Homo sapiens: one gene and its partners. The protein of the gene in region 4 purifies or fractionates together with the protein of the main gene of each other region. This does not show direct contact. Each region holds a gene or a part of one and is shown on either strand. Other genes may lie near its edges.

Region 1 (7,383 bases), on a different chromosome or scaffold from region 4:
GCCTCATCTCCAGAACTGTAAGATAATAAATTTCTGTTGTTTTAAGCCACCAAGTTTGTGGTAACTTGTTGCAGCAGCCATAAGAAACTAAAACAAATGGTCAAATCACTTCGGAAAACTGGTAATTTCTTCATAAGGTTAAACAAAGAACTCCCCTATAACTAAGCAATTCTACTCCTGGGCATTACCCGACAGAAATAAAAATGTAAAGACTCTTAGGTGAATGGTCATAGCAGCTTTTTTTGACAGAAATGAAAATGGAAAGACTCATACATGAATGGTAAAAACAGCTTTTTTCATAAGAGTCCAAAACCAGAAACAATCCTAATGTCCAGCAACAAGTGAATGAATAAACAACATGTGGTATCTCCATACAGTGGGCCACTAATTTGCGATAAAAAGGAACAAATTATGGATACATACAACAACATGGATTAATCTCAAAAACCATTATGCTGGCCAGGCACAGTGGCTCACGCCTATAATCCCAGTACTTTGGGTAGCAGAGGCAGGAGGACGGCTTCAGCCCAGGAGTTCCAGACCAACTTGGGCAACACAGCAAGACACCATCTCTATTTTGAAAAAAAAATCATTACGCTGAATGAAAAAAAGACCCAAAAGTATACACTGTATGCTTCCATTTATATGAAATCTAGAAAATACAGATGCATCTACAGAGACAAAAAACATATCAGTGGTTGTTTGGGGGCCAAGGTGGAGGGACAGACTAACCACAAATTAACGAGAGGGAACTTAGGAGAGAAATGTTCGCTATGCCAACTGTGGTGGTTTTGCAGGTATATACATTTGTCAAAAGGCATCAAATTGTACACAAAAATGGTTGCAAATGACTGTATGTAAATTATACCTCAATAAAATTGATTAGAAAAAGAGAAGATAATTCATGAGCCATTGGACACTTTACATTTAAGATTTAAAACAACTACTTATACTTTGTTCTAACAAATAATATTAAGCAAACAAATTTTAAATGAACAGCCAATTTTTTAAAGAAAAAAGGAAGACAATTTGCTCTACTAATTCAACATGTTTCACAAGCAGAAAATGGGAAAAGCCTTGAATTTGGAGTCAGAAGACCTGGCTCAGAGCACTAGTTTCACCTAGCAACCAAGTGGCCTTGGGCAAGTCACGATTTACCTACAAGTCTCAGTTTCTAAATCTCTAAAATATGGATGACACTAGTAACTCCCTCACAGGCAATGGTTATGGTTTCAATAGAGTAAGAGCTTCTTTGGTGCAGTGATTCTATTTCAGCCAAAATTATAATCCCAACTTATGGCAAATAATAGGTGCTCAACAAATCTTCACAGAATAAATGAAATACTTTAAAAATAAACCTGAAAGATGAGAAAGACATCATGCACAACACCATGAGGTGACATTTGTTTCTTTGCACTGTGTAGACTAAAGCAGAAGGGTCGCCCTCTTTGTGCTTATCTTTAATATATTATCCACATCATATGCAGACTCAAGCATGAAAACTTCTGGTCCCTTACGAAATACTGCAATAACTCAGGTCAATATAGAGCAGATTTTATATTTTAAATCCTTAGGTGTATTGCCCTAAACAGACTCACGTGTAAGATGAAATTCTATGAAAGCAAGAACTGTGTCTACGTTATTTAACACTGTTATTCACTGCCAATATTTGCCTAACATAGAGTAGGCAGCAAATGACATGTGCAAAGGCCCTGAAGCCCGATAAAGTATAGTGAAGAGTGACTTTTAAGAAGGCCAAAGTGACTGGTAGGCAGAGAGCAGAGTGTCATATCCAATGGGGTTGTGAAAGCAGGTAGGGTCCAGATCATGCAGGATCTTGTAGGCAATGTGAAGTTTTGCCTTTATCCTAAGAGCAACAGAAAGCCATGGAATATTTTTAAACAGGTGGTTGGCAGAGTAAGGAGAAAGGAAAGGGACATAATTATATTTGCATTTCACGAAGATCTTACTCTATGGTGTGCAGAAGAGAATGGTAGTTGAGGGAAGGGAGAGAAGGTGGAAGAAGAGTTAAGTTAGGGTGTAGAGTGAGTGTAGGCCAATCAATAGGCTATTCCAACAGTCTATTAAAAAGATAATGGTAGCTTGGTCCAAGGTAGTGGAGATGAAAAAAAAAAAAAGTGGGCATATTCCCAATATACGTAGACAAATCAACAGGATCTGAGTTTGGGAATGAGAGAAAGGAAAACACTCAATGCTTCTGAGCCTCAGTTCTTCATCTGTGAAGCTGGGCTGTTATTTATACTCCATCTGTATAATATCTATCTTGCAATCTGCTGTGACAATGATATGAAATAATTTAAATATTATGCACTTAATACAGTGCCTGACCCACAATAAATGCTTTTTAAAATCTCTGTTGCCATTATTATGGTCATCCCATGGAATGGCAACTACCAGAAGCTGAACATCAAAGGTAGAGAGGAGCAATGTAGTTAAAGATTCATATCCACAGCGCTAAAAGACACAAACTGTTATCAGCCGGTCACGGAGACAATTGTTCCAAAGAAACACAGCTGACTGCACAGATATTTCATCTAAGCCGATCTCAGTCCTCAGAGACCATTATGAGAAAGCACAGCTGGTATGATCACAGTCATCTGAGAATCCGGTAAACTGAGGCACAGGGATGGCGACAAATTTAACCAAGGAATAGATGCAGAAGAAGGACAAGGAAATGGGTATCTTGCTTCTCATTTTTGAGCCGATCCAACAAGACTCGGCCTGCATCCTGAAGAGCACGAATTTGTAACATCCCCTCTAATATCTCCAGGTCCCTTGCTGACAAGGCCCTGTCATCCCTTAGTTTAACACCGCGCATCCGCTCGCCATCAAACCAAGCCCTTCCGGTTCCCTGATCCTTGCTCACAGCGCACGAAGATCTCCAGGCCCCGGGAGCCCGACATACCTTAGCTTCGCGCTCTCGTTCCTCGGCAGTCGGGGTGCGCTTCATGCTGCCACTAAAGCCGCCTTCGCCACCGCAAGCTGCGTAGATCCCTCGCCCTGGACCCCGCCTCCTGCATGTAGTTCTCTCAGCGTCCTGCTCCCGTCTGGAGCTATTCTCCCTCTGAGTAGAAAAAACTACAACTCCCAGGATGCACCGCGGCGACACCCGCGAGCGCCACGGGATTTAGCACAGGAGAATTTCCCAGGTCCGACAGCTGGAAGAGCGTAGTCCGCTACCCCGCGAGCAAACAGGCTAGAGTCCAAGGAGAACTACATTTCCCAGGAGGCTACGGGAGCCTGCCATGTTTCTCCCGTGCTCCTCTCGGCCAGCCGCCCGCCACGCTGTCGGCGCTATAGCAACGGTAGCTAGCTGCAGGGCCAGTGGCACGGTGAGTACCCGGGAGGATGGGGGAGGATGAGGGTGGGTGGAGGTTGCTGACCCTCCCCACTGCAGCGCGGGCCGGGGTCCTAGGGTCCGCTCTGCCGCCTGGAGAAGGCCCTGGAGTTGGCCCTGGAGTTCTGCTGGCGTGAAAGCAGCCCAGCCCAAGACACCTCCACATCCTCAGGCCTGAATCACAGGCCGCCCTTTATCCCCACGTCCAGGACCAATTTGAAATGTTATATCCCAGCCATGAAGGTGAGAGTTGATGCTGCTAATTGCCATCTCTATCCAGATCCTGCAAGTTGTAGGTCCCTAACACAGTTTGCTCATTTGCCCTGGATTAGGAGTTGGTTGGTAGACCCTAAACCTCCTGAGTGGTCTATTGTTTGCTTAATTATATATTATTTGTTTATCATGTGATTACCTCCATAACTTGCTAGCTTCATAAAGGCGGGGGTTTTGCTTGCCATTTTAATCTCAGTACCTGATATTCATTTATTCATTCAATAAATATTTTTTCTTTATTCTTTTTTTTGTGTGTGTGACAGGTTCTTGCTCCGTTGCCCAGGCTGGAGTGCAGTGGTAAGACCTCAGCTTACTGCAAACTCCTCCTCCCAGGTTCAAGCGATTCTTCTGCCTCAGCCTCCCGAGTAGCTGGGATTACAGGCGTGTGCCACCACACCCAGCTAATTTTTGTATTTTTAGTAGAGACAGGGTTTCATCATGTTGGCCAGGCTGGTCTCGAACTCCTGGCCTGAAGTCAGCCGCCCGTCTCGGCCTCGCAAAGTGCTGGGATTACAGGTGTGAGCCACCACGCACAGCCAATCATTCAATAAATATTAATGTTGGTTCCCACCCTGTACCAGGCACTGTTCCTGAACAGTTGTGAACAAGACTAATACCCGTCTCAAGATGTTTATCCTTTTTTAGTGGAGACAAACAATAATTTTATCTGATAACTTCAGATAGAGGCAGTTGCTATAAGAGATACAAGCCATGCTTGGTGGCACGCACATGTAGTTCCAGCTACTCGGGAGGCTGAGGTGGGAGGATCACTTGAACCCATGAATTCAAGGCCAGCCCGGGCAACATAGCAAGACCCTGTCTCAAAAAAAAAAAAAAGAAAAGAAAAGAAATAAACAGTGAAGAAATGTAAGGAAGACTACTCTAACATAGGATGGTCAGGGAAAACCTGTCTGAGGAAGTGAACTGAGCTCCAAAGATTAAGGAACCAGCTAATACAAAGGCCTTGAGCAAGACAAGGGTATGGGGGGTTCGAGGAAAGTAAAGAATAATGTAAGTGAAGCATAGTGAGCAAAGAAGGATAACATAAGATGGTGTTGGAGAGGCATTGCAGCATTGTGCAGGGTTTTTCAGCTTCTACACTATTATTAACATTTTGGGCTGGATAATTCATTATTATGTCTCCTAAGCACTGTAAGATATTTAGCATCATCCATGGCCTCTACTCACTAGATGCCAGTAGCATCCCGCTTCCTTGTTGTGACAACCAAAAATATCACCAGACACAACTATTAATACTTTCAACTACCACCTTAAGTGAGTTAACTAATCTGTGTCTCAGCTTCCTCATTTGTAAAGCAGGAATCATTTGAGTAACAGCCTCACAAGGATATGGTGAGACACTTCATTCCTATAACAGAACACTTAGAACAGTACCTGGCACATAGTAAGCGTTCAATGAATGTTAACACCATCATCATCATCATCATCATTATTATTTTTAAAGTGACCTTAACTCTGTCATGGAAAACTAATCATTTTCATACACGGGCCTATGTGTCAACAGGATCCTAAAAATTGACCTTTTCTATAGGAGTACTTCCAAAAGAAGTAGATGATCTCCCAAGGATTTGTCTGTTAGCTGTTTCTGTAAAAGCAAAATGCAATGGTTCTCCACCATTTGCGAGTTGTAATAAAAGTTATGAACCCTCTTTAAAAGATATTGCATATATACATATACATACAAAATTTGGTAAACCATCTCTGGGTTCACAGACCCTGAAACCCCATGGACTCCATTCACTCACTCAACAACTATTTAATGAATGCCTGCTCTCAGAATGCACCACGCTCTATGCTAGCCTCCAAGAATACAGAGCTGAACAAGACAATGAAGCTTGCTACTGTCTTGGTCTTTACATTCTAGAACCAATATCCTAGAGCTTAAGAACTCTGCCCTTTAGAGTATCTTCATTCACAGTTTGCATGTAGCTTACTAGGTAGATTGAAATGAAAATATAAAATCCTTTATTTTTGCATACTAGATATTGTGTGGACCACTCACATCCATACTCAAAATAGAGTTACTATGGTGTATTTCTGTAAAGAATAGAAACTACAAAAATACTAGAATTAGCTAGAGAGCCTATATGTTGAAGTAGTTGAACCCTGGGTGAGACCTAGGCCTCATGGCAACAAAGGCAAGACACACACACAAAAAAACACAAACCCAGTTGGTAAATTTATGCAACGAAACCTCTTTCACAAAACTCACAAAATGCACAGAACTGCCCACTCATTTGTACATCAAGCAGACAATATTTGAGTAATATTGACATCCCAGGCACATGTGATCAGTGCTTTTAATTTACTCATCCCATTTACCCTTAGAATAACTCTCTGAGATAGGTATTATTTTCTCCATTTTTAAAACTGAGAGACTGAAACTCAGAGAGTTTAGGTGGCTTGACTAGTTTGTTAATGATAGAGCAACCATTTGAATCAAGTTCCTGACCTGAGTTTTTTCCAAGATATCTGCTTTCTTTTGGAGGCTGGGGAGAGGAAAGGGATGGAGAGGAGGTATTTCTTAAATGATAATCTTACTTCATTTCCTAAGCAAACTATAGGAAATACACTGTTGAAAGGAACACTGTCTCCATGACTGAATGTAGTAGTACTATTAGAATAGAAGCTTTCATCTTCTCCAAGCAGCACATGTGGACAATAAGATGCCCATTAAAGTTCTAGTCCCTTTTTCGTTTTATTTGGTTCATTCCATTGCATAGTTAATGTAATAATTTGGAAAGAGTTTATTTGAATTTTCTTTTTTCCACAGCTAGGCCATGTCTGGTCCAACTGATGAGACTGCAGGAGACTTGCCTGTGAAAGATACAGGTCTAAACCTCTTTGGAATGGGAGGGTTACAAGGTATGGCCAGCTGTTATTTATTACAGTTATGAACTTTGATCACTGACTACTTTTAATTTAAAGTATTTCTTATACTCATACAAACCAAACCATTTAAGTAACTATATAGTCCTTGATTGGACTAAACAAAAAGATGGAGAGTTTAGAACACATATGGTATTTTACTACATGCATCAGTTATCAACAGCTCATAGAAAATGTACAGTCCCCCCTCTGTTCTGATAAAGAATTAACATAAATCATCTTTTTAAAATTCCTCACATCAGTAGAAACTACATAGAGAGTATCAAGCCTCCAAACTGAATTGCCTGGTTTAAATTACATTCAGTGTTAAAACATTTCTTTGTGTTTAAATTTTATATGGGAGGAAAGGCCGTATTTTAAGTGTTTTGCCTTTTAAGTGGAATATCTCACATGATAGTGACTTTTTTATCGAATTAATATGGATTAAAGGTTTTCTTTATCCTTTTATCACTTAGTAGTTGCTGTAGAGCTAAAAAGCACTTTCAAATTGAGAAAGAAAAGCACTACTTTAAAGAACAATTTAGAACAGAGAGCTGTGTTTATCTTTGTGTGTCCATTGTGTCAGCTATGCTGTCATGCATGTATCGATTATCAACAGCTCATAGAAAACGTAAAATCCCCCTCTAGCCTGAGAAGGCTAGGGATTTAAGATACATTCCATTTAGGAATCTACATACACTTTTCAATCAGAACAGTGTAAATGGCCACTGTGAAAACCAGAAAAGTGGTCAATGTATTGTTTATTGAAAAAGATAAAATTTGGCTACACAGAAATTTTTTTTTTTTTTTTTTTTTTTGAGACGAAGTCTCGCTCTGTCGCCCAGGCTGGAGTGCAGTGGCGC
Region 2 (9,210 bases), on a different chromosome or scaffold from region 4:
AGAACAAGGTCCAATTTCTTGCCACTGTGAAATGTAAAACAATCTCTTGTACTTCTCCAATACAGTTTTGAAGGGAATTTCTTAAATTTGTGTTAGGCAAAGCTGTCTGCCCCATCACAGCCAGTCTCTGCTTCAATAGAACTTTTAAGGCTGGAAACACCAATCAAAACTGCTATAACTAAAAGTTAGAAAACAAATAAACAGCAAACAAAAAAGATTGTAATGCTTAAAGCCCAAAAGATTCTCCCTTCCAAAGGGATAAATTTTTATTGAACTAATATCTTCAAGGTAAATCAGACTCCTTCTGTGTTCCTTAAACCCAAAGGAAAAGTACAGTTTATATACCCCAACTAAGAGCTACTACTTGTTGGCTGGAGACTGTAGGAAAACAGTCCAGAATATAGAAATACTGACAAGATTTTATTAACATTATCAGGTGATGGTAAATGTAAAACATTAACATATGATAACGTATAGAATTAAACTTAAAAAAATTCTTAGCCAGGAGTGGTGGTTCACGCCTGTAAATCCCAGGACTTTGGGAGGTCAAGAGATCGAGACCATGCTGGCCAACATGGTGAAACCCCGTCTCTAGTAAAAATACAAAAATTAGCTGGGCCTGGTGGTGCACGCCTGTAGTCCCAGCTACTCAGGAGGCTGAGTCAGGAGAATTGCTTGAACCTGGGAGGCAGAGGATGCAGTGAGCTGAGAGCTCACCACGACACTCTAGCCTGGCAACAAAGCGAGACTCCGTCTCAAAACAAAACAAAACAAAACAAAAATTCTTGCTCTTTAGCAATTTAAATTATTAAAAAGGTACATCAGACAAGACACTTTAGAATTCTCAAAGTAGCAAAATGTTTTGCTTTTTTATACTATCCCACTTTTCTGAATTTTCCTTTACCAAAGTAAAAGCAAGGTAGTAAGAGTATAAAGAGAGAAGTATTACTAAGAGAGAGATAGCATCTCTCTTTCTTAGATGTCATACTAAATAAATCAGGAAAAGGGTAAGGAGATTCCAATAAAAGGCATGCAGTTAAGTTATTAATGTGACTGGGCAGGATTAGTAAAGGGTAGGAAAACATTCAGATAACCATGATAAAAAGTAAGTAGAAGTAGCCAACAAATAGTTTGCTTGGCTTCAGGGGCATACAGAAAAAGTAGACAAGAGAGATGAGGGAGGAATGAAAAGCAGAGTTCACAGACCCAGCATGTATGGGAATACACTGGAGGGTTGACAAGGAAATGCTTGATGTAGTTATCTAAACAAGGTAAAATTAAAGGAACTACTTAACTTTTTTTTTTTTTTAATGCTAGAGTTCTATATAAACTTCACCTGCCAGTCCATATTACAGAAATTTCAAGAAGGGGCAGCTTACTACAGTGCATAAGAGCAGGGACTCTAGAGCTAAACTGCCTGAGTTTGAGCCAAGGTTACCAACACTATGATGCTGGATAAGTTACTTAGCTTCTCTGGGGCTCAGAATCCTCACCTGTAAAATGGGATGATAAAAGTATCTACTGAAAGGAGTGTGCTGAAGATCAAATTAGTAAATACAGGTAAAGAACTCAGATCAGTGCCTGCCTGTTTTGCAATCAAGGACACTAGTGAGAAACAGCTGAAGTAGTTCAAATTAAAAATGAGAAAGAACTACAACAGACTCTGCCAAGGGGAGACACAAAATAAGTATTTGCTTTTTCTAGGTGTCCCGGTGTATAAAGAAACAGAAAACCTCTAAAAGCAGTCTATATCTATTTTTTAAGTGCTCAATAAATGCTTTCCATAGTATTTCCCCATAAGTCACCAATAGAAACAAAAAGTTTCTTGATATAAATTTCCAGACTTTATAAAATCTAGTAAATCCTGGGTAATTCTTTAAGAGAAAAATCTCTTTAAATAGCACGCTTCAGAAAAAAAAAATCTACCTATCAACTTTTCTTTTTTAAAATATTTTTATTATTATTTTATTTCAATAGGTTTTTGAGGAACAGGTGGTGTTGGGTCACATGAGTAAGTTCTTTAGTGGTGATTTCTCAGATTTTGGTGCACATATCACCTGAGTGGTATACACTATACCCAATGTGTAGTGTTTCATCCCTCACCCACCTCCCACCCTTTCACCCGAGTCTCCAGAGTAAATTGTATCATTCTTATGCCTTTGCATCCTCAAGGCTTAGCTCTCACTTATGAGTGAGAAAATACAATGTCTGGTTTTCCATTTCTTAGTTACTTCACTTAGAATAATGGTCTCCGATCCCATCCAGGTTGCCGTGAATCCTATCTTTTACAGCATGCTTCAGAAATAAAAGATCATTAGATTTTTCATAACAAATCTGCAGACAAATTCCTATGAAAAAGAGTCTTCATTTTATTGAATGTTTAAATATGTATACCTGCCGGGCCACTGCTGAGCCTCTGTTCTGAGCTGACTTAACTGCAATGACTTCTTGAGGAGTGTCCCAGCTCAAGTATCTTTTAAAAGAATGAAGAGAAGTTTATTTATTTGGGTCAGTTTCCTTATACTTAAAACCAAAATATTATATTTTATAAGTAAACTATTTTTTAGTTATTTAAATTATAAAAGCAAAGTGATCTATTTTAAAAAATAAATAGCTAAAAAAATTTCCTCTATATCCCCATATGGACATATCCCTATTTAAATACATACATAATTTTAATCTTTCTAGAGCATTGGTGAATAAAAATTGTTTTCGATCTAAGAGTATTCAAAACTTAGAAAACAAAATAATCATTTCTACTTTAAAATGGAAGTATAAAAAGCACTAAAAATGTTACTTTCACACATTCCATGAACATATTCACTCCATTTACATCTAATTTATAAAACTAATAGTTAAAATAACAGTTCTTGGATTGTACACAGCAGACAATTTAACTGAAACAGACTAGCCTTCAGGAAAATCTACCATAAAGAGCATCTTACATAGAAAATACTATTTGTAGAATACAGGGAATTTTTTTTTTTAAGTTTATTTAAACTATTACAGGTTAGTTACTTATTAGGGATACAAAGATAAATGACAGCTGGGCACGATGGCTCACGCCTGTAATCCCAGAACTTTAGGAGGCTGAGGTGGGCAGATCACTTGAGGTCAGGAGTTTGAGACCAGCCTGGCCAACATAGGGAAACCTCAGCTCTACCAAAAATACAAAAAGTAGCTGGGCATGGGGTGCACACCCAAAATCCCAGCTACTGGGAAGGCTGAGTCAGGAGAATCGCTTGAACCTGGTAGGTGGAGGTTGCAGTAAGCAGAGATCACGCCACTGCACTCCAGCCTGGGAGACAGAGCAAGACCTTGTCTTAAAAAAGAAAAAAAAAAGACAAATGATAGAGGGTCTCTATACTCAGACCTCTAAATGTAGTCATGAGGGGAGAAAAAGAAAATAGGTTTATTAATTGAGATCTGGTAATGGATTAGAAAACTGACAGGGAAAAAAGGCTTGAAATTTCATGGGCCACAGGTTTCAAATTTTTAAAATAAAATCTTGAATAATAAATTCACAGTAAATACCTGAATTTGCAATAAGGTGCAAGATATATTTTCTCAAGGATTTTTCCCGTAGTTGCTGATATACGAAGTAGCCAATTATGAGCAGTCAGTGCTATGAGTGAGGACTTATAATCTGATGAATTGGGAAGTATATCTCCCTAAAAAAAAAAAGAGAGATATAAAAATGAAACTGCTTGGCCATGAACAATTTGCAGTAATCAATGTCCAAAGAAAATAGCTAAATATTCAAATGCCAAATAAATAAACCACAAAAGAAAGATTAAATGCCCAACTAGAGAATTAAGACAAGGAAAGATAAGATTGTGGGTAATTATTTCATCATCACTTATTGAGTTTATTCACATAAAGCACTTAAACATGGCCTGAAATAATTTATTATTATGAATTAATTATTTTATTAAGTATTCACAAATGTTAGTCATAATAACAGTAGAAGACAATGATGCTACCTCTGTGATAACAATAACAACAATAACAGCTCTTAAAATCATGTATATAGCATAGCGATTAAGAGTCCTCTGCTATTAGCATGGTGGTGAGTGCCTGGAGTCCCAACTACTTAGGAGGCTGAGGCAAGAGGATCGCTTGAGACTGGGAGGTCAAGGCTGCAGTGAGTGATGACTATGCCACTGCACTCCAGCCTGGGTGACAGAGTGAGATCCCGTCTCAAAAAAAAAGGGTTCTCTGCTAGAATAGACATTCATATTGCCCCCTTTTTCCTTTACCACAGGACTTGTTTCCTTTAGATGGAAGTCAAAACTGGCAAAATGCAAATTACTTCATTATTCACTGTGGTTCTAACCTAAGCTCAAATGAAAAGCTAGAAACCAATGAAGACAGCCAAAGTACAGAAAATGGACCTGGTTTGAAAGATGACCTATGTCACCAGTGAATTATCCTAGAAAAGGGAGAGGATAGCTGCATGGGCACTCCTGTCACTGAGGAGCCACCACAAGGTGGAAGTCTAAGGCAGGAAGAAAAAGAGAAGCAAAGTTTTCTTCTTTAATTTGTAGACTAAAAGGGCATCGTGGTCCCCACCTGTAATCCCAGCACTTTGAGAGAGTGAGGCAGAAGGATTACCTGAGCCCAGGAGTTCGATATCAGCCTAGGCAACACAGCAAGACTCTGTTTCTAGATAAAAAGGAAAAAAAGAAGTGGCTAGGTGCGGTGGCTCACGCCTGTAATCCCAGCACTTTGGGAGGCTGAGGTGGCTGGATCACGATGTCAGGAGATCGAGACCAGCCTGGCCAACATGGCGAAACCCCATCTCTACTAAAAAAAATACAAAAATTAGCTGGGCGTTGCGGTGCTTGCCTATAATCCCAGCTACTTGGGAGGCTGAGGCAGGAGAATCACTTGAACCCGGGAGGTGGAGGTTGCGGTGAGCTGAGATCGTGCCACTGCACTCCAGCCTGGCGACAGAAGACTCCATCTCAAAAAAGAAAAAAAGAAAGAAAGAAAGTAAAGAGAGGCTGAAATTAATCTAGTATCTGCTTAGGCCAAAAAGTGAATAGAAAAGAATGAAGACATAGTTATTTTATATATGCTCCCTAAAAATTTGTCTTGCCTTTCAAATGTTAAGGAAAAAAATAATTTTTGTTTGTATGCTAGTGTTTTTTTTTTGTATGACTACATATAATTGAATAACACATTATACACCACTAAATACTAAAACAATACAAAAAACTCACAATTATAAATTTCAGTAAGAAATAACATAACTATAATGACATATACCCAAAACAAACCCAGGAAAACAGTGTTCCTTAATTTGGTCAGAAATCTCTACGAAGCTGAAATTAACTGTCCGAGAAAAAACTGAAAGTAGAGTTCTTGATAGTAAAGACAATACATTTCAGTCTTGACCCTTCATATTGGTCACACCATTGTCCCTTGATCTCAAATAGTTTTTTGAAATTAGGCTTTTTTGTTATATTTTTCATGCTCAAAGATCTGAAACATCTTATTAAAATTTCATAATATTTTCTATTTAACATTTTCTCAATATGTCTAAAAGAGTGAGATTAAAGGATTGATAAAAAATGTTACATTCACAATGCAATTTTAAAAATCTTATGTTCTCATTTGTTTTAAATTCTCAACTTAGCAGTCTCCACACTGTTATCCTGCTCTTTTCCCCTGGAAACCTAAAAAGAACCCTGAGATATTAAGACTGTAAATAAATCTCTTATTTAGAGAATTTCCTGAATGTTTATCACTTAGATTCATTATTTTTCTTAGTTGACTCTCCTAGATTTTTTTTTTTTCTTTTGAGACAGAGTCTTGCTCTGTCACCCAGGCTGGAGTGCAGTGGCATGATCTCTGCTCACTGCAACCTCTGCCTCCCAGGTTCAAGCGATTCTCCTGCCTCAGCCTCCCGAGTATCTGGGATTACAGGTGCGTGCCACCACACCTGGCTAATTTTTGTATTTTTAGTAGAGACGGGGTTTCACTATGTTGGTCAGGCTGGTCTTGAACACCCGATCTCGTGATCTGCCCGCCTCGGCCTCCCAAAGTGCTGGGATTACAGGCGTGAGCCACCGCACCTGGCCACTCTCCTAGATATTTCTTATAAGAGGGTTGGAATGAATCATTTTGCTAAAATTAATTCCTTTGTTAGGTAAAGGATTAAACCTCTCCATATTTAAAAGAAGAGAAAACAAACAATGTTCCTTTCGTAAGTATAATCAAGTTTCTTAAAATACTGGCTATAAGATTTTTTTTTTAAGTTTATTAACCCTTGAAGTCTTACACTGGATTCAGGGCAATGATATAAATGCATTTATTCTACAACGTCTTATCTAAATGTTGTTTCATGAAGATTTAAAAGTTTTTGGCTGAGCGTGGTGACTCACACTTATAATCCCAGCACTTTGGGAGGCCAAGGCGGGCAGATCACTTGAGCCCAGGAGTTCAAGACTAGCCTAGGCAACATGACAAAACCCCACCTCTACAAAAAATACAAAAATTAGCTGGGTTTGTTGGTGCACACCTGTAGTCCCAGCTACTTAGGAGGCCAAGGTGGAAGGATCACCTGAGCCCAGGAGGTAGAGGCTGCAGTGAGCTGTGATTGTGCCACTGGACTCCAGCTTAGGCAACAGAGTGAGACCCTGTCTTAAAAAAATATATTAAAAAAATTTAAGTTTTAAAAAATATACTATTTATAACTTGCCTATCAAAATAATTTGAAGCAGCAAATATAATACGTTCGAAATATTTTCTTGAACAAAAAGCTGTAATTCACACAGAGTCTTGGAAAAGATGGACACTAACTTAAAAGTAGTTTCATATCAGTGTGTTAATAACAATTCAAAATGCTCCTGGTTTTTCTTAAGAGAAAATCTTGCTGCAGTTGAAATGAGAATAAAATGTTTAAAAATAAGTGAGAATACGGACCGGGCATGGTGGCTTATGCCTGTAATCCCAGCACTTTGGGAGTCCAAGGAGGGTGGATCACTTGAGGTCAAGAGTTCGAGACCAGCCTGGCCAACATGGTGAAACCCCGTGTCTACTAAAAATACAAAAATTAGTGGGGCATGGTGCTGGGTGCCTGTAGTCCCAGCTACTTGGGAGGCTGAGGCAGGAGAATTGCTTGAGCCTGGGAGGCAGAGGTTGCAGTGAGTGGAGATCACGCCACTGCACTGCAGCCTGGGCAACAAAGAGAGACCGTCTCAAAAAAAAAAAATAGTGAGAATAGGAATTAGGTTACTAAATTTTTGGTGTTTTATACTAGTGTATTAAAAACTTTCTCAATTAAGAAATCTGTCGTCTTCCCCCATACTCCCCAATGAAAATGGATCAAAAAGCTTTAAATTGCTAAAGGCACAACAGTTACTTTTAGCTTTCAATAAGGAGTTGAAGAAGAAAACATAGGTTTAAAAGCTTTCTAATTTTTAAATAGGAGCCTTCAGTGAACAGACAATAAGTATTCAGAGAAAAAGAAAGCAGCAGCTCCAGAAAACTAAAACTTTATGTAAAAATGATAGCCTGAAAAAAAAATTAACAATAAATTTAGCGTACAGCCTCTTATCCTTTAAAAATTATTTTTGGTCACATATTATGAGTTCCGTTTTTCCTAAAGGACAGCCAATCAGATTCAAAGACCTGATTAATCTGTTGTAGTATTTCCTAAGTGCATTTCTTAGAATAAGCACTGATCCTATAGAAAACAAATACAGGTCGATTATCCCTTCTCCTACTGAAACACTTGGGACTAGAAGTGTTTCAGATTTGAATTTCTTTGGATTTGGGGATATTTGCATATGCATAATGAGGTATCTTGGGGATGGGACCCAAGTCTAAACACAAAATTCATTTATGTTTCATATCTATCTTATACATGTAGCCTGAAGATAATTTTACATAATATTTTAAATTTTGTGCCTGTCACATGAGGGCAGGTGTAAAATTTTCCACTTGTGGCGTCATGTCGGCATTCAAAAAGTTTTGAATTTTGGAGCATGTTGGATCTCAGATTTTCAGATTAGGGATGCTCAACCTGTACTTAGAAATATTCCTTAAACAAGGAAGTTCTATGATCAAAAGAATTTGGGGAAATGGCTTGATAATCATCATACCTATTAGTATTATTGTATTATTATTATTAGTAAAGGCTCTGAGAAGTAATTCTATCAATAGATATGTTTACAGTCTTAAACTCAGAATGTCCCAAACTTAGTTTTTCACAGCCCAATTCCCCCTAACTCCTCTGACACCCGTTAACATTCCATGAAAACAGTGTTTTGAAAAATATACACCCAGGCAAAGCTAGCCTTATGAAATGAGCTTATCCTATTATTTTATTTTTATTATTTTCCTAACACGTAAAATAACGTAAAATAACTGTTGCTCTAAATACTTTGTTACTGTTTCAGTATATTGAGTGGAATGATCTCTTAAACACTAAGATAATTATACATTAGCTTATGCTGCTTATATAACTTTTAATCGATTTATAACTTTTTAGTTTTCAGGATCTAAAAAAAATCTATCTAATTTTAAAAACACATTCATAATATTAGTATTTTTAATACAGAAATTATTTCATGAGGAAAATAAAAGATATACTCTCATCTTGATTGCTTTAAAGATGCAAGAGTCACTATGATATTTAAGTTGTATTATTTTATGCAATATGTTAATAATAACTGGTTCTTCTAGGCTAAAAATGCTTTAGAAACAAACGCTCTAAAAACAAATCTTACCACTGGGCATTCCCATAATAAAGCATCCTCTATTTTTTCTGATTTGGAACATTTTGGCATTTCATAAAGTTTTCTTGGCTCAGATGCAACACTGGGAAAAAAGAAAAATAAATGATTATTATTCTTGATAACCAAGACAGTATTTGTTCAGGTTTGAGAGACTATTTTTATTCAGAGATGTGAAATACCAAGGCACAATTTATTTGCTTTCCTCTTAACTAAATATTAATATTTTTTTCTGATCACATAATTCATATAAAAAAAAACAAGATTAAAATAGTTTACAATACCATAAAACTGCCAAAAATAACCCTTATTAACATTTTGGTTCATTTCCTTCTGGTTTATATACATATACGTACCTGGACGTTGTTTTCCAAAAATGGTTCATATTAAATTCTTTCTTTACCTCTGAACATTTACTAAGAATATCTCTGTTGAATTCCATCAAGATCAAAAACTATTGTTCTGA
Region 3 (9,210 bases), on a different chromosome or scaffold from region 4:
ACTTAGTAGATGTGAATCCTTTGGGAAGGTACTTACACACTTTGAGCTTCAGTCTCTGCATCTATAAAACCATGGACACATGCATGAGTACTTGTAGCATTTCCTTTGGTCTTGGTTTCAAGTAGCTTCTGGTCCCTTTTTGGGAAATGCAGGACCTCATGACAGCACATCATTGTGTTTCTCCTCTGTCCCCCAACTCACTAGATCTGGCACCACTCTTTCTACAATGAGCTTCGTGTTGCCCCTGAAGAGCATCCCACCCTGCTCACGGAGGCACCCCTGAACCCCAAGGCCAACCGGGAGAAAATGACTCAAGTAAGTATGCTACCCCAGCACACAACACTGTGGGGTCTGGGGAAACTTCTGTTAGAAGGAGGCTATGCAGCACAGCAGAGAGAAGGCCGGAGCTAGGAGTCCACCAACAGACTAACAGCCTTCAGTGAACTCAGGGATCCCAAAGGACAGGAACAGCTTGAAAGTACTTGCATCCTTCCTGCAGGGACCAGCCCTTTGCCTCCAAAAGCAATAGGAAATTTAAAAGATTTCACTGAGAAGGGGCCACGTTTAAGTTATAATGTCTAAGGAGAAGTCACTTCAAAATGCAGCATCACATACAATAGGAATTTGGGTTCCAGAGTCAGACATATCTAGGTTTGAAAACTGGATCTGCCACTTATCAGTTATGTGACCTTAAAGAACTCCGTTAATTTCTCAGAGCCTCAGTTTCCTTGTCTATAAGTTGGGAGTAATATTAATACTATCATTTTTCCAAGGATTGATGTGAACATTAATGAGGTGAAATGACAGATGTGTATCATGGTTCCTAATAAACATCCAAAATATAGTACTTACTATTGTCATTATTATTACTTGTTTGAAGCTAAAGACCTCACAATAGAATCCCATCCAGCCCACCAGACAGAGCTCTGAGTTTTCTAGTTTGGAAGAGCTATTAAATAACAACGTCTAGTGTCAATTCTATACTTGTTATGGTCAAGTACTGGGCTCAGCATTTTACATTCATTGTCTCTTTAAGTTCTAGCAATGTGAAGCAGGAACTATGATTATATTGACTACATAAATGAAGAAATTGAGGCTCAGATACATTAAGTAATTCTCCCAGGGTCACACAGCTAGAACTGGCAAAGCCTGGGATTGATCCACGATCTTCCAGCATTGAAGAATCATAAATGTAAATAACTGCAAGGCCTTTTCCTCAGAAGAGCTCCTGGTGCTTGCACCAACCCACTAGCACTTGTTCTCTACAGGGGAACATCTGTGGGCCTGGGAATCACTGCACGTCGCAAGAGATGTTGCTTCTGATGAATTATTGTTCCTGTCAGTGGTGTGAAGGCAAAAAAAAAAAAATGGTTGGAAATTATGGCTTGCTAGCAAATGATGTCAGACATTCTGGTTAATAGAGTAGGAAGGGTCTTACAGATGGAGAAATGAAGACCCACGGACATCTCCTGATGCACAAACTTCTCACAAGTGACCTGGAGGGGCTTGGTTCTAATCTTGTCCCTGGACTGCACCAACTGGGGCACTGACATTCTATGTGGTCCTCTATTACCATTGGGCTGGTCCTGTCTTCCAGGAACCAGGGCCTCTCCCACTGCAACCAGAATGGCCTCAGATTCTAGGGTTAGCATTGACCCAGTAACTACATAAAAAAGTGGAATAGATTAAATAGAACCTCAGACAAATCACAGAAATGGGGCTAAACCTAGCCAGCCTGAGCTTCAGATTTAAAAGTTCTCTTTCTTTATACCAGGGAAATCAAAACCTGGATGTTGTCTTCTCTTTTTCTTCTGGCTTTGACATAGTTAACAAGCCCTAGGATGTCTGCACTGGAAAAATGGGAGATCTCATTTAGTCCAAACTCCTCCTCTGTTAAGAGACCTGGAATAAAGCCACTATTAATCAACTATTAGTTTGGTGACTATTAGTCAAAGCCAGGACCAGAGCCAGAAGCTGGACTTTCCTTTCCCCTGGCCAAACCTTGTGTGCACACTGTTTCTTCCCCTCCCCACCCTGTCAGGCCATTGATGTGATGGCTCCCCATTCACACCTTCATTTCTCCTCTTTAACGTGACCAGGGCTGTTCTGAACCTCCTTACTTTGGCCTCCTCTGCCCAGAACAGGTCAGGCCCCTCTGCATCCATCAACCAGGTGTGCTCTCCTGACCATTCTTTGTCAGATGGGCACCTTCACTAACTCAGCTCTTTGGATTGCTTTGCAGATTATGTTTGAGACTTTCAATGTCCCAGCCATGTATGTGGCTATCCAGGCGGTGCTGTCTCTCTATGCCTCTGGACGCACAACTGGTAGGTGGCTGGGCGGGACAGCAAGCTGGTTGGAGCGCACTGCCAGAGATGGGATTGAATGGTCGTTAACACGTGGGGGTGACGGACTGGAGTTGAGTTAGAATGGACACGGCTGAACCCAGCCCTAAAAGATCTTCTTCTAGTGTTCAAAATAAGCCCTTGATCTCATATTTCTAGCAGAACTTTTTTCTACTGTTTTCCTCTTCCTGTTCTTTACTTTTTTTCATCTTCCCCGAGCCCTGTCCCACCTCACCTCTCCTATCACATGCCCTGTTTTCTCTTTTTAAATAAGAGGCTCGGAAATTCCCTCTCCCCCAAGGCTTCCCTCTACTTGTCCAGCAAGTAACCACATGCCAGCTGCCATGGTGACTTATCACGCCCAATTGTCTCCCAGGCATCGTGCTGGACTCTGGAGATGGTGTCACCCACAATGTCCCCATCTATGAGGGCTATGCCTTGCCCCATGCCATCATGCGTCTGGATCTGGCTGGCCGAGATCTCACTGACTACCTCATGAAGATCCTGACTGAGCGTGGCTATTCCTTCGTTACTACTGGTGAGGCCTGTGGGAGATAAGGGGGAGAGGGGAGCAGTGTGTTGCTCAGTAACTTCCAGGACCATCCTCACTATCCAAGGAGATGATGGGATGAAGTTTTGCAAATGGCAAGGCCTGGCTCTAATGCACAGAGCAAAGCACATCTTTCTTTGCTGTGTGAAGTTGCAAAATGATTACACTATTTCCTTGAGGAGAACAGTTATAGACACCCAGTGTTATGCATTAGTCAGTGTTGTATAATTGATCTTTTTTTAATCCCCTCCATTAGCAAATAGAAGAAGATTGTGCAGAGACTGAAGATGGCATGGTGTGGTGATTGGCAGGAGACATTGTGATAGGACTCGAGTCCCAACTCTGCTACTCAGTAGCTCTGTGAGCTTGGACAAGTTAACCAACCATAGTCTCTTTATTTGTAAAATGGGGATAATAATAGACCCTATATCACATGATTGTTATCAGTATTAAATGGAAGAACGCATGTGGAATACTTGACATAGAGTAAGCATTCAATAATTGTTAGCTATTAACAGTGATACTTATTAATAGCTAACACAGTGACATATGTGTATTCAGATTCTAAGCCGGTGCACCCAGTCCTCCCTTCACAAGAGGAAAGTGTCAGCATTGCCAGAAACATTGTATGTCCTCAGTGCTGGTGGCTCCAGCTACCTGTCCTCCCCTTAGCAATTTGGTATTGTCCAAACATTTAGGTTTCTGAACATGCCTGAGGCTTATTTTATGCTCCAAATTTGAGGCTTGAGACTTGAACCCTGCCAATGTTAAAGTCTCCACTTGCAATATGAAGTTGAATAATTGCATTCCTCCTCTGCTCCCTACAAAGAATCCCAAGATGCCTCTAAAAGGTTCCTAGAGCCTCAGATATAATTAATAGCCTAGAACTTCAGAGAGCAGAAGTCTGAAAGGTCTCTCCCTGCCCACTTCTTCCGTATCTCGTTCAGTATGCACCGCTGAAACCTTCTGGACTAGGCCTGGTCCTGAGACAGCACCACCTCTTTCCTGGAGGGTGAGAAATGTGCCAAAGGTTTAACCTGCTATCCACTGGCCCAGGCAACAGGATCTCAGACTTTTTGAAAATTGTGAGGCCCCTGAGGAGCTGATTCAGCATAAGATATCCTGGTTAACTGAAAATACAATATAACAAACTTTCTGTCATAAAATAATTATAACACAGAGTAGTTATCCTGCCCACCCACCCCAAAAAATGTTATGGTACAAAAGGATCCGCTACTGTGTGCCTTTCTCTAGCTAGCTCATTTTATTCTTGTTATGCATTTCCCAGACAATGCATGCTGAGGGCCTACTATGCATGAGACACTGTCCTAGGAACAGAGGTGGTTCCCTGGTGGCCCTACTACGTCATTATCATTGTGGATTTTGGATTGCAGAATATTGAACTGACACATTTTTTGATGGCACATGTCTTGAGGGAGAGACTGCAGTAGGGCAGGTGAATCTTTGCCACCTGTGCAGACCCTAATGTTTGCCACAATGTTTGTATCTGGTTGACAGCTGAGCGTGAGATTGTCCGGGACATCAAGGAGAAACTGTGTTATGTAGCTCTGGACTTTGAAAATGAGATGGCCACTGCCGCATCCTCATCCTCCCTTGAGAAGAGTTACGAGTTGCCTGATGGGCAAGTGATCACCATCGGAAATGAACGTTTCCGCTGCCCAGAGACCCTGTTCCAGCCATCCTTCATCGGTAGGCAACAAACGCCCTTTTCCTGGGAAGGGGAGTCATTGTCTTCTTCCATATCAAGCCAGCCTCCAGAACATGGAGACAAGTGACGGTTGCCCCAAGACCAAAAGCATTTCTAAACCAGAAAAAGGGAAAGTGCCACATTTTCAAGGCGAGAAGACATAATGAGGCCAGGAAAAAGGTTTTCTTCCTAAGAAAACACTATCTATGTTGCAGTTAAGCCCAAAGCATTCATGGTGTATGATGAAAGAATTAAATAATGCCTGTGCTTTGGAGACAGCGGAAAGGGTAGCAAGGGTGTGCTGAAGGCTGAGAATTTGGGAATGCTGGGGGAGAGAAAAATAGAAGAGCACTCAAAGTGAGTCTGTTCCTACATTCACATTGTCTTGGAGAGACAGGTTTGCATAGTTGTTTACAGAGGCAGGCTCTGAGAGGGGTGAGCCTGGGTTTCAGTCTTAGTTCTCTTGATCTTGGGAAAGTCACTTAACCTCCCAACTAGTCTCCTCATGTATAAAGCGGAGACTGTAATATTACTTATGTCCTAGGATGGCTGTGAGAATTACAGGAGATAGATAAAGAGCACTTAGCCCACTGCCTGGCAAAAGCAAGCATTCAATAATTATCAGATATCACTAGTAATTAATAATCAGGTAGTGCTATTGTTAACGTTATCATTACATCACAGCACTGCAGAAGATGAAAGGGCACCTAGAGGTTTTTTGAAAACACCTGCGTCAGAAATTAACAAAAGTCCAGACCCCCACCCCCACCCAAAAAAAATGTTAGCAAGATTGGAAAAATGAGCCTTTTCCAACAGGATAAAAAATAGAGTAAGTTTCCCTGATAATCCAGCCCCATTAGCTTTGGGGGCTGGGGCAGATGCAACGTAGCTGTTAAATGGAGACCTGGGAGAGCTCTGAAGAGTTGTTGCAACATTGGCTCAGCGTGGAAGCTTTGCAGGGAATTGGAAGGCTTCATCCCTTATTTAAACCACATGGAGTGAGTAGTGAGTCTATTAAAAAATCAGTGATACCTGTTGTAGCCCACACCTCAGGATGCTGCAGCAGGCCTTCCTCATTAGAAGGCAGGCAGGAAGACATAGAGCATAACAAGACCCTTTTGTCTCTCAGACAGGTGGTTCCTAGATTATTATGTCTTCCCAGCCTCAGTCCACTGCAAGATCATCCAGATGTTCAAGTCTGGTCTTCCATGTCTAGCCTGGGTTTTACTCTCCACTTAAGGACCATGGCCTGTGTCTCTTTTCCAGGGATGGAGTCTGCTGGCATCCATGAAACCACCTACAACAGCATCATGAAGTGTGATATTGACATCAGGAAGGACCTCTATGCTAACAATGTCCTATCAGGGGGCACCACTATGTACCCTGGCATTGCCGACCGAATGCAGAAGGAGATCACGGCCCTAGCACCCAGCACCATGAAGATCAAGGTACTGTTCAGTGACAGACCCAGTGGCAATGCCGCCAGCAGTGTCAGCCCTATAACCACAGATAAGAACTCTTCAGAGACTGTATTTTGGTGACATGCAATTGTGGGTTTTAGGGGTAGGTAATGGACACAAATCTCATATTTTACAGGATGTAAGTCAATCTAGTTCATAAGAAAAATTGAGTTACTTTATATAAAATTTGATCTCTATTTATCCTTGTCTGTCAGCTACTTTCAGTAGCTGCAGTCAAAGTCAACAGAGCTCCCCACATGCTCATCTCTCTTTAAAATATGCATTTTGTTGTTTTTCTCGACACAAAAATAGTGCATCATGCATGTAACACATTTTTTAAAAATACTGATGACCTAGACTTATTTCTGAAGAACTTCAAACACTGTAGATTTAGGAGGAGCTTATACTCTTCCTCCACTACTAACCTCAATCCTGTGGCCAAGAATTCAAATTTTATCCTCATTCCTCTGTCTAGCACATCTTTTGGTACAGGTGCTCAAAAGCACAGAATGACTCTAGGATGACCAAGCTCAGTCCCTGAGCCACCCAGGACCCCTGTATGTGGTGTGAATGTTGAGCCCTAGTGAAGGGAACTCGGGGATTAAATGGAGATAATTCTTTGGAGGCAAACTTAACCTGTGGCTGGGTCACTTCTCAAAGGTTATTATCACTCTCTGAAGTCAGAAGGCCACACTTGGGACCCTCTGACCCATGTCACAGGAAGTAGAGGGGCAATTCTAGTGCAGTTCACACACGTGGGTATTTAAACAAATTATCTCCTCTTTGCACTCCCTTCTGTTTTTAGAAGGAGTATGCAGCTAACACTAGAGAGTGTGCTAGACTGAAACATGCACACTTTCTCTCTCCATGATAGGCTCTGGCTAGTCCTGCCCTAAAAGACTTCAGCATGAGAGAAGAGAGACTGTTTTCCAACAGCGTTTGTGTTTCTTGGATGCCATTCTGATCAGCTCTTACCCCCCTTACTTCCACACAAGAGGGAGGTGAATGAAGCCAGTAGCTGGGCTCACTACTGAGTTGATCTCATGAGGGTCGATAACAGAAAGAGGCTATTGCTAGAGTTGGGCAGTTCCTAGTTCTCTAAACTTGGTTTCTTGAATAGAAATTAATGTGAAACTCTGGGCCCCGATGTAATGAGATAGTATAGAGAACCAAGAAAAACCTAGGACAATAAGATGATAACATTTGGCAAAAATGAAACTGGATGAGAGACCTATGGGAACTCCCATAGAATTTGTCATAGGCTGTTCTTGCGTTGCTATAAAGAAATACCTAAGACTTGGGTAATTTGTAAAGAAAAGAGGTTTAACTGGCTCACAGTTCAGCAGGCTGTACAGGAAGCATAGCTCTAGCATCAGCTTCTGGGGAGGCCTCAGTCTCAGAAAGCTTCGAATCATGGTGGAAGGCGAAGCAGGGGCAGACACCTCACATGGCAAAAGCAGGGGCAACAGAGAGGGCAGGGGTGGGGGGAGGGTGCCACACACTTTGAAATAACCAGATTTCATGTGAACTCGGAAGAAGAGCTCACTTATCACCAAGGAGATGTCCTAAGCCATTCATGAGAGATCCACCCACGTGATCCAAACACCTCCTACCAGGCCCCACCTCCAACACGGGGGATTACATCTCAACATGAGATTTGGAGGAGATATCCAAACTATACTAAATTCTTTACAACTTTTCTGAAAATCTAAAATTGTTCCAAAATAAAAAGGTTATTTTTAAAACCAAACCAAAACATAAAACCACCTGGGAGAACCCAGGTTTGAATATCAGATCTGACACTGATATAACCGGTGTTACCTGGGCCAGTTACTTAAACTTTCTCAGCCTCTGTTTCCTCATATGTAATATGGGAGTAATTTAAGACTTATTCTTCAAGATGTTTATGAGAATCAAATGAGATAATACATGTAAAATGCTTAGCATAGTGCCTGGCATATAATTACATGCTCAGTAAATATCAGTACTTTGTATTAAGAAGTAAATGCTCAGAAGATAAAGATTAAACTGGTTAGCCAGTTTTCACTGTTCTCTGTGCCTAAACCATTCATTTATTTAAGAAACATGAGCATGCCTTGCAGGTTAGGCCTGTGCACTGGGAAAGGCCAACCAGTGCAGCTTAAGAGGCACCTATTGCAAGGGAATGTCCCCAGCAGGGGACCCTGAGTTCCCCAATGTTAAACAGAGCATCTGGGTGAAAAGTGGTAGTTCACTTCACCACGTGGAAACACATTTGTATACTAAGTCCTAGCACAATTAAAACTTCTCCTTTGAATAGGCTAGGGTTTGTTTCTACAGAAAGTGTATCGTGTTGAATTCTGAGGCAGAGTTCATGGAAATCAGAGGCATTGCCAGGGTTCTTAAGTGGGGGCCATGGCTGGATTTGGAGCCAACTTTCAGTTTGCTCAATAATGTGGTCGAAGAGTTACAGGTGAGAAAAACGAATGTGCTTACTGAAGAATTTCTAAATCCATGGCTCCCTCTGGCGGTCCTGCCAAGAACATGACACAATTAGGACACAATTGGCATCTAACAGACAAGCCTGTGTCCCTGCTGAACAAGAAACTAGGCCATGGTAGAACATCCAGGCTCTGTCCTACCGCACTAACGACTGCACTAATGATGACATTAATGACCATTCTTTTTCATCTTGACTGACAGATCATTGCCCCTCCGGAGCGCAAATACTCTGTCTGGATCGGTGGCTCCATCCTGGCCTCTCTGTCCACCTTCCAGCAGATGTGGATCAGCAAACAGGAATACGATGAAGCCGGGCCTTCCATTGTCCACCGCAAATGCTTCTAAAACACTTTCCTGCTCCTCTCTGTCTCTAGCACACAACTGTGAATGTCCTGTGGAATTATGCCTTCAGTTCTTTTCCAAATCATTCCTAGCCAAAGCTCTGACTCGTTACCTATGTGTTTTTTAATAAATCTGAAATAGGCTACTGGTAACTTCTTGCGTTGGCCTCCGATCAATACTCGACTGATACCATTTGTTAGGTTGACCTCACCCGTTACAGGATGGCTCCCTCTAGTGGTCCAGCTGAGCACATGGCAATTAGGATGGATATGTTTCTCAGGCAAAGGGTAGAATCACATTACCTGAAGTGGGGAGCTGCACTTC
Region 4 (5,297 bases):
AAAGTCCATAACCTAGTAAGGATTTCTAGAAAACAGGGTTAGAGAGGTGCCTCTGGCATCAGCAAAGATGAAAAATTGAAGCTAATATGAAAGGCATCTTGTTCCTGTCTAGAGGGACAACTTCCAGCCAAAACACATTTGAAGCTCTAATTACATACTTAAAGATTTATCCAAAATGCCAAGCATAAGTTATAGACTGCCTATGGTGGAGTGTATTTCTTCCAGTGGCAAATTTACATCTGTTCCTTTGGACACACTTCATTACTAGCATATGATCATCTTAAACATGTTTCCATAAACTCCCTCCTAGTATACATTCCCCCTAAATATATATACACACATACACACACAGACTTGAAGATTAAAAACCATGAAATGTATTTTTAGGGGATTTTTTTTGGTAAGAACTCATAATCAGATCCCTTTAAAATAATATTCACGTTACACAATAGTTAACTGTCTTCATCTTTTTGTAATTCTTAATTTTCAAGTTATGAAGATCCCACAACTAAGAATTGTTGTGGTTTAAGCCTCAACTCAGATGATAAAAATCTTAAAACTCACATAAAAAGATCTATTTCTGATCTTTATAATCTTATATCAATTTATCATACATTGGGAAACTTTATCACCAGCCCTTTAAGAAATTATAAAGGATAACACCCAGCATTTGATCTTGAATAGATTTTCAGCCAATGAATGAGCCTCAGAAATGCCTTTAAAAAGGCTGAAAATCTGAAATCATTTAAGACTTTTTTGGTGCATATTATCATGGCTTTTTTAAAGCTAAGAATCTCCTGGAGATGATTTAATAAAATGTGCTGATGCCTTGAGTACTTTACAACACACAAATTCAGTGTGATCTATTCACTTCATTCAGAAACATTTTTTGTGTGTGCAGACCGAAGAATTTTTCCCACAACAGTAAGGGTATGTGTCTTGCATCCTGATTAATTAAAGCATAACAGCATCTTACAGCCTATAATCTACTTTTTTAAGTGAGCATTTAAATTCAAAAGTACACTGTATACAGAAAACCAGGCTGTTTAAAGGACCACATCTCAATTATATTGCATATATAAATTGATTATATTTGTAAGAGTATTTTACATGTAAAACACCCCCAAAAGATTAATGGGTATATGCTTTTTAATAATGTGTTTATTTCCAGCAGTGTTTATGGTACTAAGGCCAACTTTCTTAAAATTTGAAGGGAAAATAAATATTAAAATCTACCAACAAAATTGAGAACTCACTCCAGTCCCAGGCTAACTCCAGTGATGGGGAGAACGGGCAGTGTGGGCAGCTAGGTTGATTCTACTGCCAACCTAAAAGCTTACAGTACTTGCATGATTTCCAGAAGACCATGGCAGACTGTGTGCAGACTGATGAATGGAGAACCCACAGTCATCGAGAATCGGCATCAAAATAACGTCTCAGTGATGACAATTTACCTTCTTCCCTTGATCTTCAACTCATAACCAAACAATTTTCAGACAAGACTCAGAAACCGTTTTATTAAACTGGAACACAAAATGCGTGTTATAATAATGTCAAGCCTTTATCAGAAATCAGTACATAAGTGAGGATACACAGCCAAAATGAGCCATCAACAAAAGCAGTATAAATTTTAAATAAGTTTCAGATTTCTATACTCAATATGCTAAAGAAAATAAAACCGAAAGAGTAGTTTCAATTTCACAATTCACAGTTGATTGGTTTTAATCCCATGACACGTTTGTCATTCTGCAGCCCCAGAACACAGACTTCCAAAGCAGTGACTGGCACTCCGACCCAACAGCATACACAGATCTTAAGCCTCTGTATGACATTTAGAGAAAATTTTAATAAACAACCCTAATTACACACAGTTTGGGCTGACATTTTTTAGCTATATCCTTTATCAAAGATAGTTCTAGTGAAATAGCAAAAGCAGTTTTAAAAGTTTGCCATGCCATTCAATAAAGGGTTCTAAAGCCTCCCTTGGTTTTACATTTTATTCTCTAATTTAAAACAATAACTGCATTAAAATGCAACCTTAATGGTGAAAGCAAAATCGGTTTTGCTTCTGAATCTAGAGCATATTTCCAAGGAGAAGCAACTTATTGTCCCAGCAGATATATGGAATGCTTTAAAGCAGGATCTGACATACTCCAGTAAGGCATTTCAAAGCAGACACATCATACCCAAACTAAATCATTATGGTCAGTCAAGGATACCACAGGTGAACACCAAGTAACGCAGAGTTAACGTGAAATTCTTACAAATGACACACGATTTACAAAACCCCAGAAAGGTACTCAGGTACCAAAAGAGGGCAGAACAATGACCAGCCACTCCAAAAGAGTTTTGTTCCTATACATGCCATATTTGCAGAGTAGAAACAAACTGCCCTATTTGCGCTTTGCCCTAGGATAATATCACTCATTCTGACATGTGGAGTTACTCTTCCTTAAAAAAATATATCATGTAGAGAATACACAAATAATAATAAATGATATAGAACATTTATTATTTTCACTAGTGAGGGGGTCACTTAAGCACTTACAAAGACTTATAAATGAATCATGAAGGTCATCAAAATGCAAAAACATCCAATAAATGTTGCATTATTAGTATTCAACAGTGCAGCAAGATTTTTAGCAACTGCGTCGGGCTTAATTTGGAACTATGGCCATGAGAATATGTTTAAGTTCAAAGAACTGCCAGATGTCTAAAAAAAAAAGTGTAATTAGTAAAAATATGGATTTTCCCTCCAAGGGCCCAAAGGAAGTGTTCAGTTACTTTGGAAGCCATGAATTTTATCAAACACACACAAGAATATGAATCTGGAACATTTCAATTCTGATTCAATTCTACCCATTGAATCTTCATGACCTGGAGAAAGTCACTTAAAATTCTTTAGATTTTATCTAAAGAATCTTATCCACAAAAAGTGGGCATAAAAATAAAGGCATATGTAAAAATAATTTTTTCTAAACATGACTACAATAAAGCTAAAGATGGTTACTAAGGCTTACAATTTCAACAACTCATTGTACAGTACAATCATTTTTAATTCTGCTAATTATAGCTGGAGGAAGTGTGGATAATTACAATTCTCAAGGAATTCAAATCAAATTCTTTAGAAAAATTAATAGTTTCAACTTACTAAGCTACTTAATCTGCTCTCCTAGAGTTGTTTAAAACAGCTAATTATATAGGGGTTTGACCCTTTACTCCCCTCTACCTTCTGGTAGAGCAGCTGAAAGTAGTGAAAGGAGAAGTGACAAGAGGGAGAAAAGCAGCAACAGATTGAAATGAGGTATTCGCTGATTTCATAAACCCCAATCAGTAATTTACAGTTTTTTGAAGAAGCTGCATAGTTTGGCAAAAATACATTATCAGAAGTGGGGAAAAGAAAAATTATATTGAAACTTTAAAATTTATGACAAGCACTTAAAAATGACCAATTCTAAAATAAACTTGTGTTTGAAAGGAATTGTCCTCCCTCACCCTAAGTACACACAAAAAGAGAAACTGGAAGACAAAAGTCCACAGGAGGAAAAAAAAAAAAGTATGTTAATTGGCTCAGATTATCAACTTCATACACCACTTTCAAAATAGATATTTAAACGAATACTAAACCTTAATTAATGACACCCATGCTAAGAATTTAGGGCAGTGTATTGCCTAAAATTTACTTTGGAATGTTCTTTAAAAAAAAAATCTGATGGATCGATGGATGAAAAGAGGGATAGAGAATATGAACAGATACATGGCAATACAAGTATAGTCAAATGTTGATGGCAGAATCTAGCAGTGGTTATACTGCAAAGTTTTTTCAACTTTGATATATGTCTGAAAATTTTCTTGAGAAAATGTTGAGGAACATGTTAACATTTCTATAATAAAATCAGTCTAGCAGGGCGTTTCTAAGATTCTAAGTAGTCAGGCAATTTAGAATTTTAAATTAATTAAACTAGGGAAAATTTTGCTTTTAATGGCTTCAAACCTGATTTGTGAAGATGCTTCATTTAATATAGAAATGAACTAACACAATTAATAATTATTGTGCCAGTCTCTTCGCTTTAGCTGCAAATACATAATTTTTCCCCTCTCTACAGAAGACAAGTTTGAAAATGACCACTAGAATAAAGAATTTTTCCAAACATCAGTGTCAAGCTCTTCCAATCAACCACACTGCCATTCACTAAGTACAAACGCAACACAGATCAAGGTGAAAAATGATCTCTGACTTCTGCCAGCTTGGGAAAACTGGATTCATTTTCAGAATGTATGGTTTCTGATCAATAATGACAATAGTTTTACTTGATATCAAATTGACATTTATTTAAAAAAGGGAAAAAAAAGACGTAGAACAGAATTCACACAGACCTTTGTTATTCCAAGCTCCTATTTATGAATGGTGATTAATAGCAATAATTCTGTCTCTCTTCTCTCTGTGAAATGCTAACACTTGCTAAAGGCACTCAGATTCTGGGCTTAACGGAGACAAGGTCACATGGGACCATAAGCCAGTACGTTTTTTGGTAGCTACCCAGAAAGGAAGTTTACAAATGTTCCTCCCATTCATAACGGGAAGAAAAAGTCAAACAGCTATCAGTAGAAGCGTTTTATGAGAAGCTATTTACACAGCTATTTGTCCATTCAGCCAGAGTGACAGTAACTGCTCACAATGGTAGGGGTTCTCCCCTGCCAAGAAAGCAAAAACAATAACAAAACACTTTTTATCATATATGAAACTCCTGTACAATGATTTGGCTAGAAGAAAAAAATAGTTGGTAAGGTCAAATTTGTTTTAAAACATCTGTTCAAAAGCCTGCATTAAACTTTTATCTGTCCTGACAAAACATGTCTCAATTTCTTTCTAAAGCAGCTCTATTGTCCTAGCATATGCCTCACCAAGTTCTTTAAAGGGCATTTCCAACCTTAGTTCTGACAATGAAGACACAAAGTAGGTTAGGTTCCAAAACCACCCTTCCTAGCCCTCCCTGTAGAAAATACCATGTTGCACAGTTACATGTGTCCCCTGACACAAACGACACTCATTTTACGTAGGTCACTGGACCTCAAACTGTTGTTGCTTGCTGTCCCAGCCAATTCAAGAGTGAAGGAAGATGTAACCAGACATACATATCTCCCTTTCTCCCTGTTCAAACTGTAGATAGGTAGCTATAAGCAAGCATATAGTTCTGTAGAAAAGCTTTCTAAAATGAGGTGGAAGATCTCGTGCTTCTTGTTAGCTTTTTAAGTCAGGGGAATGTAAGGATGATGTCAAATAGCCACGATTCTTC

The links.
Region 1: the proteins of ZMAT3 (region 4) and FTO purify together in Homo sapiens (affinity purification with mass spectrometry; 3 studies listed by BioGRID and IntAct, with this or other methods). This does not show direct contact.
Region 2: the proteins of ZMAT3 (region 4) and DCAF17 purify together in Homo sapiens (affinity purification with mass spectrometry; 3 studies listed by BioGRID and IntAct, with this or other methods). This does not show direct contact.
Region 3: the proteins of ZMAT3 (region 4) and ACTA2 purify together in Homo sapiens (affinity purification with mass spectrometry; 3 studies listed by BioGRID and IntAct, with this or other methods). This does not show direct contact.

Annotation. Positions count from the first base shown.
Region 1 is NC_000016.10:53,699,773-53,707,155, reverse strand, and holds the start of FTO (alpha-ketoglutarate-dependent dioxygenase FTO), read right to left. Parts: upstream 3,001-7,383; 5' UTR 2,972-3,000; coding exon 2,927-2,971; intron 1-2,926. Other genes in the region: RPGRIP1L (protein fantom), read left to right, coding at 6,433-6,517.
Region 2 is NC_000002.12:171,443,142-171,452,351, reverse strand, and holds part of DCAF17 (DDB1- and CUL4-associated factor 17), read right to left. Parts: intron 8,830-9,210; coding exon 8,739-8,829; intron 3,672-8,738; coding exon 3,535-3,671; intron 2,474-3,534; coding exon 2,395-2,473; intron 1-2,394. UniProt on the Homo sapiens protein: May function as a substrate receptor for CUL4-DDB1 E3 ubiquitin-protein ligase complex.
Region 3 is NC_000010.11:88,934,902-88,944,111, reverse strand, and holds the end of ACTA2 (actin, aortic smooth muscle), read left to right. Parts: intron 1-204; coding exon 205-315; intron 316-2,242; coding exon 2,243-2,327; intron 2,328-2,721; coding exon 2,722-2,883; intron 2,884-4,137; exon of another isoform or gene 4,138-4,413; coding exon 4,414-4,605; exon of another isoform or gene 4,606-4,717; intron 4,718-5,635; exon of another isoform or gene 5,636-5,869; coding exon 5,870-6,051; intron 6,052-8,538; exon of another isoform or gene 8,539-8,745; coding exon 8,746-8,889; 3' UTR 8,890-9,038; downstream 9,039-9,210. UniProt on the Homo sapiens protein: Actins are highly conserved proteins that are involved in various types of cell motility and are ubiquitously expressed in all eukaryotic cells.
Region 4 is NC_000003.12:179,015,734-179,021,030, forward strand, and holds the end of ZMAT3 (zinc finger matrin-type protein 3), read right to left. Parts: 3' UTR 1,490-5,297; downstream 1-1,489. UniProt on the Homo sapiens protein: Acts as a bona fide target gene of p53/TP53. May play a role in the TP53-dependent growth regulatory pathway. May contribute to TP53-mediated apoptosis by regulation of TP53 expression and translocation to the nucleus and nucleolus.